Homo sapiens: one gene and its partners. The protein of the gene in region 4 purifies or fractionates together with the protein of the main gene of each other region. This does not show direct contact. Each region holds a gene or a part of one and is shown on either strand. Other genes may lie near its edges.

The links. Proteins that work in one complex are often made in the same cells at the same time.
Region 1: the proteins of CREB3L3 (region 4) and CMTR1 purify together in Homo sapiens (affinity purification with mass spectrometry; one large-scale study listed by BioGRID and IntAct). This does not show direct contact.
Region 2: the proteins of CREB3L3 (region 4) and TARBP1 purify together in Homo sapiens (affinity purification with mass spectrometry; one large-scale study listed by BioGRID and IntAct). This does not show direct contact.
Region 3: the proteins of CREB3L3 (region 4) and SPARC purify together in Homo sapiens (affinity purification with mass spectrometry; one large-scale study listed by BioGRID and IntAct). This does not show direct contact.

Annotation. Positions count from the first base shown.
Region 1 is NC_000006.12:37,439,721-37,443,220, reverse strand, and holds part of CMTR1 (cap-specific mRNA (nucleoside-2'-O-)-methyltransferase 1), read right to left. Parts: intron 1-3,500. UniProt on the Homo sapiens protein: S-adenosyl-L-methionine-dependent methyltransferase that mediates mRNA cap1 2'-O-ribose methylation to the 5'-cap structure of mRNAs.
Region 2 is NC_000001.11:234,430,680-234,434,179, forward strand, and holds part of TARBP1 (tRNA (guanosine(18)-2'-O)-methyltransferase TARBP1), read right to left. Parts: intron 2,893-3,500; coding exon 2,731-2,892; intron 1-2,730.
Region 3 is NC_000005.10:151,662,916-151,666,415, forward strand, and holds part of SPARC (SPARC isoform 1 precursor), read right to left. Parts: coding exon 3,446-3,500; intron 1,321-3,445; coding exon 1,172-1,320; intron 685-1,171; coding exon 656-684; coding exon of another isoform or gene 540-655; 3' UTR 1-539.
Region 4 is NC_000019.10:4,163,631-4,167,130, reverse strand, and holds part of CREB3L3 (cyclic AMP-responsive element-binding protein 3-like protein 3), read right to left. Parts: intron 2,629-3,500; coding exon 2,491-2,628; intron 1-2,490. UniProt on the Homo sapiens protein: Transcription factor that may act during endoplasmic reticulum stress by activating unfolded protein response target genes. Activated in response to cAMP stimulation. In vitro, binds to the cAMP response element (CRE) and box-B element.

The DNA.
Region 1 (3,500 bases), on a different chromosome or scaffold from region 4:
ATTTTTATTTCTTATAATTGCAAAAAGAGCTTTTGGAAGGAACGATATACAAGAAGACCAATAAAAGTGATTATTCACACATTCAGGGGTTAGCATTTGGAGACAGAATACCAAAACAATTACTTGGAACTAGTGAAAGCAAAAGTGAAACTTGATTTACATTTTTATACCACGAAAGTTTACACTGGCTATCTTTTTATATTTTTTGACTTATGAACCATGTGAATATATTATCTATTAAAATTTAAAATAAATATGAAAATATTGACTTAGCAATGTGGCATAATTCCTTTGAAGAAGAAGGGACACCACTCAGAAAGGGTGTTGATTCAAAACTTGGCTGCTTGTGAGAAGTACTGAAGGAAAGTCACAGACGGCAGTGTGTAAAACATTTTTTAATAGACCCGAGGTGGTCACTATTCAGGTATTTCTAACTTGAAGAATACATTATAATTCTGAAGCCAATCTTAAGTGATCCATCCATTTCCCTACCAGAACCAAAACCTGCTAAGGGTTGACATTCAAGAAGAACAAAGCTTTCCCCAGCACTCCAGGCCTAACTGATTATCCCTTCCACTGTGCTCCAGTAACACCAGTGTCATTGGCACAGCACTCATCACATTGCCTTAGAGCCAGTTATTGTTTGCCACTTGCTGTCCCCATTGGACAGGGTCACTCCTGGAGAGCAGGAACTATGTCACAGTCTGTACCCAACACCTGGACTGAGGCTTTCCATTTAATAGAAATTAATTAAATGATTACTGTAGTAAATGTAAAGATGTGTCAGCCAAGTATCACTTTCCTAAGGACCTACAGAGTATATGACTCCTTGAGACATTTCCTCTTACAAATAGTGCAAGCTGTTCAGGCCTCAGAAGTTTAAGGATGAGAATGGGATCTCTATATCTTAACAGAGAACGGAGCCCTCCTGGGCTATGATTTAGCTTCCCCACCAGTAGGTTGAATTAGGACATCTGTCATAGTTCAGAACACTGATACCGTTTAAAAGATCAGACTACTATACTGGTTCAGCACCTATTCTATAAAAGATCATGCTACATATAATGGGGTACTGTGCAAAAGTAACAACCCTTAGAGAGCTTAAAAATCTAATAGATAAGGTTAATATGCATTTTCAAGGATACAACATTTTACAAAAGAAAGAAAAGACAGGTGAACATGTGTGAAAGAATAAACTTAAAACCAAAATTCTGGCTTCTAATAAGTTAGCAAGGATAAATTTTGGTTGAGAATGTCCCTGTATGAGAGGCACAAAATCTGCCCTTCCCTTTATGGTGGCTGTCCAATTCTCTTAATCGAGTTGACTTGCTTACATGAACCAATCTGGCAAACGTCACAGAGTGCCAGAGAGTGCCACTCAGAAAACCCAGACCACTAAGAATGAGTAACCATGGAAACTGAGAGGTGAACTGATATTTCTTTTGTTTTGCATTTTCCTGCATTTTCTGCATTTGTGAGACACAAGAATGTATTAGTTTGAAAATCAAGGTCCAGGCACGGTAGCTCACACCTGTAATCCCAACATTTGGGAGGCGAGGCGGGCGGATCACCTGAGGTCAGGAGTTCAAGACCAGCCTGACCCAAATGGAGAAACCCTGTCTCTACTAAAAATACAAAATTAGCCAGGCGTGGTGGCACATGCCTATAATCTCAGCTACTCGGGAGGCTGAGGTAGGAGATTCACTTGAACCCAGGAGGTGGAGATTGCGGTGAGCCGAGATCGAGCCATTGCACTCCAGCCTGGGCAACAAGAGCTAAACTCTGTCTCAAAAAAAAAAAGAAAAAGAAAATTAGGGTAAAAAAAGCTATAAATAAATAGATTAACACTCCAAGCCTTGGGAAGAGGTTGGTTCCTTTCCAGAGAAATCTTCCAAGAGCAGCAAATCTGAGGGGAAAGGCCTTCTAAATGGCTCAAGACCGTTCTAGGGCCTCTCATCTATTCTCCCATGCAGAGGAGAGAGATGCACTCTGCAACAGAGTGCCCACATGCTAAAGAACTGCACTTCCAAAGGTATGGATTCTCTTCACTCAGTTGCTTTCATGCCTTCAACCTGTACTACTTAATACAGAAACAGGTGGTACCAGGAATGTGGGCAGCTCCCTAAGCAGAGCCCTAAAGTTCCTCTTGGGCAGCCCAGGGATCCAGGGCCCTGACTAATCACAAGCTACAATGCTAAATCAGTTGCTACTCCTTTCACCAGCAATCTGGACATTCATAGGTCTACCTATGAAAAAGTCTGAAAACCCGGTATCCTTCTCAAAGGAGGGTATGCCCTTGCTCCAGCTCTAAAGAGTTGCCAGGCTGTTAGATTTGCCTGAGGGCCCAACAATGAGCACGGAGATAGTACAAATAACATTCCTGGGCACACAGGGTTCCTGCCACCCTAAGATCTCAAAGAGAGATCTTTTGTTTCCTTCTGTCTTCAGAATATCTCTGGGCAAAAATGACAGGGAGAACCAAATTTGAGTGGAAGGCTCACTAAGCAAATCAGTGGTGACTCTGGTGTAAAATTCCAGTACCAGACTTTGGCACAAAGATTTTTCCCTCCTACTCTTCCTCCCAAGGTGTTACCTAATGTACATTATCCTTTCCAGGTTCTAAGAGTGAGGTTAATGGGAGTAAAATATCACCCTACTAGGCAATTCCTTGTAAGATCAAGAAGTGTGCTAGATAAGCAAATAAGTCTTATTTTTTTCTTTTATTCACGTGGTATAGGAGACCACTTCTTAGCTTGACATGCTTTAAGCCAAAGTTCCCTAGATTATTCCTGATGTCCACAGACTGCCACAGCCACTACTTATTCTTACTCAGGGGCCTTTGAGGCTACTCTTTTCATATGAAAGGGAGACAATTGTCACGGCTGCAGCAGGAACTAAACAGGAGGCTTAGCTTCTCAAGACCGATAAAGAATTTAGCAAACATTGAGCAGATAATTTTGTAATGAGGTTGTAAATAGGAGTAATAAGGTCAGTCTATTAAACTCATTAGTTTCAATAAGAATTTGCCAAAGCTGGATGGCATTCCCATTTACCTCCTGGGGAGCTCCCCTCCTAAAACCTACCAGAGAGCCCAAAACAGTATGTACGGTTTTAAGATTTCTTCTCCACTTGATAGAAATCACTATTAAGTCATTACAAGGAAGAAAGATTCAACTTTACAGAGGAAACAGAGGTCTCCTGGCTGTTGGCAAAATTTTTCACATGGCAATACAGCAATGGGACAAACATGCCAAGATTAAAATTGGCAGTGACAAGCTGGGCACAGTGGCATGTGCCTGTAGTCCCAGCTACTTGGGAGGCTGAGGTAGGAAGATCACCTGAGCTCAAGAGTTCATGGCCAGTGTGGGCAACATAGTGAAACCCTGTCACTAAAAAAAGAAAAAGAATACATATACTATGTTTAAAAAATGACAGTGACAACAAAGAGGGGCAGCTCCAACCGCTAATGGCCAAGGTGGGCAGCACACAGATACAGAAAA
Region 2 (3,500 bases), on a different chromosome or scaffold from region 4:
TGGGTGAGCCTTATTTTAACTGTCTGCTGAAACATGTTAAAAAAAAAAATAAAAGGCTCCAGGTTACAAATAATTCCTTCTATCAGCTGCACGCTACTTTTGGAGAAGTCACGTAGTCCAGCAGTTAAGAGCTGGACTCAGGAACCACAAAGCCCAGGTCTGAATCCTAGCTCTGTGCTACTACCAGTATGAGTGTAGACATACTACACCTTAGTTTTCTCATCTGTAAAATGGGGACAGTAACAGAATCTACTTCACGGGGTTATTGTGAAGATTAAGCAAATGGGTTACTGCATGTAAAACACTTGGAACTCTACACGTAGGAAAGGAGGGTAGCCAAGACAACCTGGTCTATACTTAAAGAGAAAATCGACAATCTCTCACCAAGCTAGGAGTGCAGGCAAGAAGTCAGACACAGAAAACAACAGCACTGAGAGATTACAGCAGTTCCCTCAAATACTGCCAACCAGTAATGTCTGTATCAGAAAGGAAATTTCTACTTATTCCATACCCCTCTTTCACTCTCCAAAAATAAATCAACCATCTCTACAGAAAAATTTTACATATCAACACTGCCAACATATGAAATAGAATTTAGTGTTACCTTTGAGCCAACTATCGTCCCTGCTAACCTTAATGTAATTCAGTGAATTACTAAAGGAAGCCGATTTTTAAGAATAAGAGTTACTGTGGCATGGTTCATGGTTTGGTTGTATATTTAGAACTCACAATGTTCTTTCATAACACTAACAGACTAATAGGTACTAGACAGGATGCTGAAATATTAATCATCGTCTTTATCATTTCCTCCTAGAATTAAATTATTAAAGCAATCGAGTATCTTCTTTGTTTTTCTTAGTAGCCTGGATTAGTTACACTGATTGAGTTCAACTTATTAAACACTTACCACATGTTAAGTGAAAATGGCTAACTTTTATTGAGGACTGTCTATCTGCCAGGTACAGTTCTAAAGACTTAACATGAATGAGCTTTCTTTAATTCCCACATCAACTCTATAATCCCCATTTTGCAGGTGCAGTAAATGAGACACAGAGGGGTTAAATAATGTAGGTCACACAGCAAAAATAAAGCCAGAATTCAAACCCAGCAACTCTAACTCCAAAGCCTGTGCTCTTCATTACTAAGCCTTATTGTGCCATGTTTAAGAAATGCCTTGGCCAGGCGTGGTGGCTCACGCCTGTAATCCCAGCACTTTGGGAGGCCGAGGTGGGTGGATCACCTAGGTCAGGAGTTCGAAACCAGCCTGGCCAACATGGTGAAACTCCATCTCTACTAAACACACAAAAATTAGCCAGGCATGGTGGCGGGCACCTACAATCCCAGCTACTCAGGAGGCTGAGGCAGGAGAATCGCTTGAACCTGGGGGGCCAAGGTTGCAGTGAGCCAACTGCACAACTGCATTCCAGACTTGGCAAAAGAGCGAAACTCCGTCTCCAAAAAAAAAAAAAAAAAGCCTTGAGGCCAGGCACGGTGGCTCACACCTACAATCCCAGAACTTCAGGAGGCTGAGGCAGGCAAATTGCTTGAAGTCAAGAGTTCGAGACCACCCTGGCCAACATGGCAAAACCCCAACTCTACTAAAAATACAAAAATTAGCCGGGCATGGTGGCACACGCCTGTAGTCCCAGCTACTCGGGAGGTTGAGATAGGAGAACTGCTTGAACCCAGGAGGCTGAGACTGCAGTGAGCCAAGATCACGCCACTGCACTCGGTCTGGGTGACAGAGCGAGACTCTGTTCAAAAATATATATATATAGGAAAAGATATATATGCATACATTACTCCAAAAACAAGAAAGATGGAAATACACACTACAAGTGAGGCATAAAGAGCAACAGGAAGATGAAAGAGAGTGAGATACTAATCGAAGAAGACCTCTAAGAGAAAAGAGATTCCAGTTGGTCCATAAAAGGGGAGACCAGATGCTGCCAAGTGTATGCTGGAGGAGAGGGCACTCATTCTCCACGGAGGGACCAGACTGAATGACAGCCTCCATGAGGAAGATAGGACACATGCTTGTGATTTGTAAAACTCTAAGTAGCCTAGAGTGGCTGCAACGTCACGGCACTGTGGGAAGGAGGGGGAAAGGCATTAGACAGTGGACAGCTAGGCTGAAAAATGAGGTAGGAAGCCAAGCATGGAGGGCAATGATGTCAGACTATAAAATGTCCTTTACTGGACACGTTTGGGCAAAAGACCTAGTACAGGTGAAATGTCTATATCTAAATGATTTTAAGATGATGCCTCTTATATGTTTAATATTATATTAAGAGTATCACCTGTAATCCCAGCACTTTGGGAGGCCAAGGCAGGCGGATCACGAGGTCAGGAGTTCGAGACTAGCCTGGTTAACATGGTAAAACCCGTCTCCACTAAAAAATAGAAAAATTAGCCAGCCATGGTGGCACACACCTGTAATCCCAGCTACTCAGGAGGCTGAGGCAGGAGAATCACTTGAACCCAGGAGGTGGAGGTTGCAGTGAGCCAAGATGGTACCACTGCACCCCAGCCTGGGTGACAGAGCCAGACTCCATCTCCAAAAAACAAAAAGTATCAATCTTAACTACATCTTATCACTAGAGGGTATATTTTAAAACTGAATTTTAGTTAACGCTTTGTATGGTATCAAAATAGTGTATAAGAACTGAATATGTATTCCCTGTATGCCTTATTCAAGATAACTACAAACCTTGAATCAAAGAGGCTTACCTGTCCACTGTCCATCTCTTGAAGATGCTGAATGGATGCATTTTTCAAAAGAGAAATAACTCTCCAGATAGGGTTACCCCTTTTCCACCCAACCTTCAAATGCAGATTTATAAGCTCAGTTAACACCATCAGGTATAAATGGCAACGATCCAGATCTGAAACCTAAGACAAGGATTAAAACACTTAAGGGTACAAGCAAGGTCCATGATTTTCACAAAACTACAAGCCTTCAGGCAGGAGAAGTTTACTTAAAGGACCACAACAAGACACTGATGAGAAAATAAGTTCTTTTCTCCAAGCAGCCTTCCATAACCTCCCACGCAGAGCTAAGGACTTCCTTCTCTGTGCTTACACAGTGACTGTGCATTCAGCACAATTATGGTGCATTTCACAGTTGAGTCATCTGTCTCCCTACCTATGAGGGAGACCTTAGATGGCAGAAATTACCATCTACCAATTCTTATGTCCCTAGGGCTAGTACATCATAAATAATAATGATAATGGTTATAGCAATGACTACTTCCACTGTTTACAAAAATCACTTCTCACAAAAAAGATCACTGTCCCACTTTCATAAGACAACTAAGTTTCAGAGAGGTTAAACAACTTAAATGCACATTTTTTGACTCATAAACCCAGAAAAAAATGGGTTCAGCTCTACCATGCACCAGCCCTGTGACATAGGACAAGTTATTTAACTCTTCACTACTAAGCCTTATTGTGTTAAGATCTCATAATTCAGGTGGGGAGATGGATGACTCAATTGTGAA
Region 3 (3,500 bases), on a different chromosome or scaffold from region 4:
GAAACTGCACTGAAAGGTAAAGGAGGAAATGGTGATGAACTGGGCTTATGTGAGAATGTCTATATTTTCATAACACAGCCCCAGAATCTTTCTCTCAGTTACAGCCTCAGGCAAACCACGTTCTGGTTGGTGGGTTCTGCAGGGATCTCTCCCACCACTGAGCCTCTAGTCCCAAAACCATCCTTGACAACATCGTGTGTCTGTTACTTCCCTTTGCCCACCTCCAGGCCACCTGGGGAAGCCCACAGGCAGCCAAGACCCTGAAATGAAATGAACACAAAGTCTGACTCGGTAAGTATTAGTTTCAAACAGAACACTAAAGAGAAAAGTTGAAGCTGCAATGTGTGTTTAAGGCAGAGCCCAGCAGATCCGTGTCCACCCATGTGCCAATAAGACAATGGGCAAAGCTACAAATGGCAAGAGAAAAATGGGACTATTAATGCGTGTGGAAAAGGCCTTAATAGTTAAGTTACAGCTAAGAATGTCATGTCTTGGGTTAGAATTTTCATTTTTAGCACCGTTAATGTATTCACTTAAATCTATGTTAGCACCTTGTCTCCAGGCAGAACAACAAACCATCCAAACATTTTAAACATTGGGGGAAACACGAAGGGGAGGGTTAAAGAGAGAATCCGGTACTGTGGAAGGAGTGGATTTAGATCACAAGATCCTTGTCGATATCCTCTGCAAAGCAAGAAAAGAGCACGGTTAAAAATAAGGCTGTGTCGATGATAACGCACTTCCCAAGGAGTCAGTGGACTCCCACCCATCCCCAGGGGCAGGGGTCTAGGTGGCCATGCAAGGTCACCCAGGAAGTCAGTGACGGAGGAATCTCGCTCTCTCTGTCTCTGGCCTGTCCCTGTCTCTTACACACGCTGCCAAGTTACACTTCCTGTTTCCTCTCTGTGTGCCTGCCAGTTCCCAAAATAGTGTTTAGCACGGGTGAGTGCTAACGCTTGAGGAAGGGAAAGAGAGAGGGACAGTTGGATGGACAGAGAAGGATCAGGAAGACGCCCAAGAGACAGGAGTCAAATAGGCAGAGAGAGCAGAGACAGGCAGAGAGGACAGACAACAGACAGACCAAGAGAGCGGAGAGTGGGGGGATGACAACCCAGCACCCTGGGAGCAGTGTTTCTGCCCATGCCCCTTGCTTCTTTGTTCAGACACTCACTCTGCTTGATGCCGAAGCAGCCGGCCCACTCATCCAGGGCGATGTACTTGTCATTGTCCAGGTCACAGGTCTCGAAAAAGCGGGTGGTGCAATGCTCCATGGGGATGAGGGGAGCACGCAGTGGAGCCAGCTCGGTGTGGGAGAGGTACCTGCAGGGAAGGAGGCAGGGGAGGGCCTGAGGCATGGAAAAGCTCCACACCCAGCCTTGGGAGGCAACCGGGGAGTTAGCCTGCCCCAGAGCATGGAGGAAAGGATATTTAAAGCAGGACAAAAAGCCAGAATCCCAGGTCTACCCCTAGCTCTGCCACTGACTGCTCTGAGACTCAGAGAACAGCAGTGCACCATTCGGAACCTCAGTTTCTCCTTCCAGCAAAGAGGAGGAGATGGCCATAATTACTAACGGCCCTTCCAGCTCTAAGGTTTCAGGGTCTCAAAAACAAAGGTCTGTTTGGTGTATTTGATTGTTTCCTAATTGGCTGAGAACTGGGGACACAGAAACTTAAAATCAAAATTCAGCACTTCTGCTATGGGTAGATCAAAATCTAGCATGACACAGCACTGTATATTGTCTATGGACACACATTTATACATCTATAAATGCCTAGTAAAGGGTCTAAAAATGACACACCAATCTGGTGACAGTGCTGCCTTCTGGGGAGGAATGTGGAAAGGGACTGGGATTGGCAGTGAGGGTCAACGGGAGCTCTAACCATCTTCATAGAGCTTTGCTTGTGTATCCTGTAATGTCTGAGAGGGAGGCCCTTTGGATGTCTCTCCCACTGTCCTCCCTCCCTATTCTCCCTGCTGGCCTTAGACTCCAGAGCATGTGTATAATTTTTTTCTTTGTTTCCCAGAGCCCCCAACTACTTGTCCCTAAAGATCCACAAAGGATCTCCAGGGAACAATGTGACTCCAGTTGTCTTCTTAACCTCTAGACCTCGCAGCCCCACCCAGCTCACCAAAGAAATCACACAATGTTTGAACTGATAGGAACATTCTCCTCCCCTTCATTGTACTGGTGGAAAACTGAGGCCCAGGGAGGGGCAGGGATGCAGGCAAGGTCACCTACAGCCCTGGGATGGGAGGAGGAGGAAGCGGGTCCCCTTGCCCAAGCTGGACCCCTTTCCCAGATGTGCTGTTCTTGCACCCCATCTGAAAGCCTCCCTCCAGGCCCTCTGTTGCAGTGGGATCAAATTGCTTTGCCTGAGCTCCAGATGTTCCCCTTTGACTTTTCCCCTCCCTGCCATAATGAGTGACTCAGTTGGATCCCAGCCATGGCAAAAGCCTGGGAGAGAAGTGGCCGGGAGATTCCCAGAGCCCAGGAGACCCCAGCCCTCAGGATCACTGGCAGGGTTGGCAGACTCCAGGCACACAGGCTGGACAAAGAGCGAGGGGTGAACATCCTAGAGAGGAAGTTCCCTGAGTATGTGAGTAGGGCAGCCCTTCCTTTCCCCTCTGTGTGATGCTCTGCTTCCACAACCCAAGGACGAAGAAAAAACCACTCTGGGAAGGTGCAGGTGTAGCTTGCTCCATCTGAGGCTGAGCAGGGGCTCTCACTTCATCACCACAAGAGAAGTTCAGAAGGTAGTGACAGGTTATGAACAGAGTATAAGTCCATGAGGGCAAGGACCATGCCAGCTCTGACTGCTGTTCAATCCCCTGCCTAGAATAGTGCAGGGCACAAAATGCACACTCCATAAGCATTTGCTAACTGGCCAGCTGCCTGCCTGTTCGGCAGTGCAGTTGCACAGGGCCTCATAACTCGTTTGGACAAGGGACAAGAGCCCTCAAACTGGGGGCTTGCAAAATAGACAGGCTTTTTTGGATAACTTCCAGGGTCAGTTGGGCCCTATTGGGGCTGAGCCTTAGGAGGGGGCTTAGACAGTGCCAGGTGGCTGCTCTGCCCCTGGATGTTCTGCTGAAGGACAGGGGGCGTGTGGCTGACCCAACCTTGTCCCCTGCCACCCCTTGGAGCCTGGTACTCCTTCTTAATTCACACTCCTTCATTATCCAGATATCCACGCCTAGTACTTGCAGGATTATGGAGCTATTTTGAGCTCCTACTGACTTTCACCTCAGCATGAGAGTGTCTTATCGGTTTCTTTGTCCCAGGTCCACATCTTTTCTCCAGATGCCTCATCCTTCTGCTCCAATCCCCAGGCAAACTGTGGATGCCAGGGCTTGGAGCAGTATAGGCTGCTGAGAGGCTTTCTGGCCATAGCTAGTGCACCTGCCAGCCTTGAGCTCTGTTCACTCTAGGGTCTGGGGTCTTACCCGTCAATGGGGTGCTGGTCCAGCTGGCCGAACTGCCAGTGTACAGGGAAGATGT
Region 4 (3,500 bases):
CCTCAGGTGATCCGCCCATCTTTGCCTCCCAAAGAGCTGGGATTACAGGCATGAGACACCACACCCGGCCAATAAGTGTCTTCAAATGGGAATGTCAGGCTGGGCGCGGTGGTTCACAGTGCTGTAATCCCAGCACTTTGGGAGGCCAAGGCAAGAGGATCGCATAAGTCCAGGAGTTCAAGACTAGACTGGGCAACATTTAGTAAAGACCCTGTCTCTACTAAAACAAAACAACAACCACAAAATCAGCTGGGTGTGGTGGTGCATGCCTATAGTCCCAGCTACTTGGGAGGCTGAGGCAGGAGGATCCCTTGAGACCAGGAGTTCAAGGTTGCAGTTAGCTGCTACCTGCAGATTGTACCACTGCACTCCAGCCTGAGCGACAAAGTGAGATCCTATCTCAAAACAAACAACAACAACAATAGAAACAGATGGGGCCAGGCACGGTGGCTCACACCTGTAATCTTAACACTTTGGGAGGCCAAGGTCAGAGGACTGCTTGAGGCCAGGAGTTTGAGACCAGCCTGGGCAACATAGCAAGACCCTGTCTCTAAGGAAAAAAAAAAATGCTGGGCGCAGTGGCTCACACCTGTAATCCCAACACTTTGGGAGGCTGAGCTGGGCAGATCACAAGGTCAAGAGATCGAGACCATCCTGGCCAACATGGTGAAACTCTGTCTCTACTCAAAAAAAAAAAAAAAAAAAAAAATTAGCCAGGCGTGGTGGCGCGTGCCTGTAATCCCAGCTACTTAGGAGGCTGAGGCAGGAGAATCACTTGAACCTGGGAAGCGGAGGTTGCAGTGAGCCGAGATCGCGCCACTGCACTCCAGCCTGGGCAACAAAAGCGAAACTCCGTCTCAGGAAAAAAAAAAAAATTAGCTAGGCATAATGGCATACACCTGTAGTCCCAGCTGCTAGGGAGGCTGATGTGGGAGAATCACTTGTACTCCAGAGGGGGAAGTTGGAGTGAGCCAAGATCACCTCACTCCACTCCAGCCTGGGCAACAGAGTCAGAACCTGTCTCAATAGAAAAAAAAAAAAAACAGATGAGAATATCAAACTCAGGCATTGATACTGAGTGCAGCAGGCTGGGTGGGGACTGTGGTTAGCTAGAGAACCCAAACAGCTACCCAGCCATTGACTGGTGCATATGGAGGTTTGAGAATATGAAACAGAGGACATTCAAGTAATTGAGTTGGTTTTTTGGATTTTGTTTTGTTTATGTTTTTAGTTTTTTTGTTTTTGTTTTTGTTTTGACAGAGTTTCGCTCTTGTCACCCAGGCTGGAGTGCAGTGGTACCATCTCGGCTCACTGCAACCTCCACCTCCCGGGTTCAAGGGAGATCCTCCTGCCTCAGCCTCCTGAGAAGCTGGGAGGCTGAGAAGCACCTTACAGTTGCCCACCACCAGGCACAGCTAATTTTTGTAATTTTAGTAGAGACGGGGTTTCACCATGTTGGCCAGGCTAGTCTCGAACTCCTGACCTCAAGTGATCCTCTGCCTCAGCCTCCCACAGTGCTGGGATTACAGGTGTGAGCCACCGTGCCCAGCCTCAAGTCACTGAGTTCTCTTGTAAAATCTACCGGTCAGAAAAACATTATCAAGCAATTCAAAAATGTATAAAATGCAGTACAGTCCAATCAAAACATGTCTGCAGGGCCAGGCATGATGGCTCATGCCTGTAATCCCAACACTTTGGGAGGCCAAGGTGGGAGAATCACTTGAACCCAGGAGTCCCAGCCCAGCCTGGGCAACATAACAAGACCCCATTTCTACAAAAAAAAAAAAAAAATTAAATTAGCCAAGTGTAGTGGCGTGCACCTGTCATCCTAGCTACTTGAGAGGCTGAGGCGGGAGGATCTCTTGAGCCCAGGAGGTCAAGGCTGAAGTGAGCTATGATGGCACCACTGCACTCCAGCGGGACACAGCAAGACCCTATCTCCAAAAAAAAAAAAAAGTTTGCTGCACCCAAATTGCTGCCACCTGGAGTCCGCCATTCATTCCTGGATGTTGATAATTACCCTCTGAGTTGAATTTACAATGGGGCTTCTGACTGATTGTTTTGGCTCTGGTGACAGACACAGCATAGCATTCTAGTACGGGTGTTCTAAAGGTGAGACACATAGCCAGTGCGGTGGCTCACGCCTGGAATCCCAGCACTTTGGGAGACCGAGGCAGGAGGATCACATGAGGTCAGGAGCTCGAGACCAGCCTGGCCAACATGGTGAAACCCTGTCTCTACTAAAGATACAAAAATTAGCTGGGCGTGGTGGCGCATGGCTGTAATCCCAGCTACTCAGGAGGCTGAGGCGGGAGAATCGCTGGAATCTGAGAGGCAGAGGTTGCAGCAAGCTGAGATCGTGCCACTGCATCCCAGCCTCAGTGACAGAGAAAGACTCTACTCTAAATAAATAAATAAAGGTGGGACACACATGCAGGTAAGTGCACGAAGGGGAGATGGATCCAGGGCTGGAAGTCCCCCCAGACTCACCTTAGTGAGGGGCAGCTGAGTGGGCAGGGTGATGCCTTCTTTAGCCAGCAGCTTCTTCTCATCCTCGGTGAGCACCAGCTCCTGACAGTGCCCAGCCCCAGGTCGCAGGAGGTAGGAGGCCCCCAGGTGATGCTGTTGCTACGGAAAAAATCAGAGGAATGACGGCGGGTGCAGGGACGCCAACTGCCTTCAGGAAATGAAAGAGGTATCAGATCGAAAACACTATCACCCCAGGCTGGGTGTGGTGGCTCACGCCTGTCATCCCAGCACTTAGAGAGGCTGAGGCATGTGGATCACTTGAGCTCAGGAGATCGAGACCAGCCTGGGTAACATGATGAAACCTCGTCTCTACTAAAAATACAAAAATTGCCCAGGTGCGGTGGCTCATGCCTGTAATCCCAGCACTTTGGGAGGCCGAGGTGGGCAAATCACTAGGTCAGGAGTTTGAGACCATCCTGGTCAACATGGTGAAACCCCGTCTCTACTAAAAATACAAAAAGTTAGCTGGGCGTAGTGGCGGGTGCCTGTAATACCAGCTACTTGCGAGGCTGAGGCAGGAGAATCGCTTGAACCCAGAAGTCAGAGGTTGCAGTGAGCCGAGATTGTGCCACTGCACTCCAGCCCTAGTGACAGTATGAGACTCCGTCTCAAAAAAAAAAAAAAAAAAAAATTACCCGACCATGGTGGCGGCGCCTGTAATCCCAGCTACTCAGGAGGCTGAGGCAGGAGAACTGCTTGAACCCGGGAAGCAGAGGTTCCAGTGAGCCCAGATCACACCACTGCACTCCAGCCTGAGAGACAGAGTAAGACTCTGTCTCAAAAAAAAAAAAAAAGAAAAGGTGGCTCACGTCTGTAGTCCCAGCACTTTGGGAGGCCGAGGCAGGTGGATCACTTGAGGTCAGGAGTTCGAGACTAGCCTGGCCAACATGGTGAAACCCTGTCTCCATTAAAAATACAAAAATCAGCCTGGTGTGGTGGCACGTGCCTGCAATCCCAGCTACTCGGGAGGC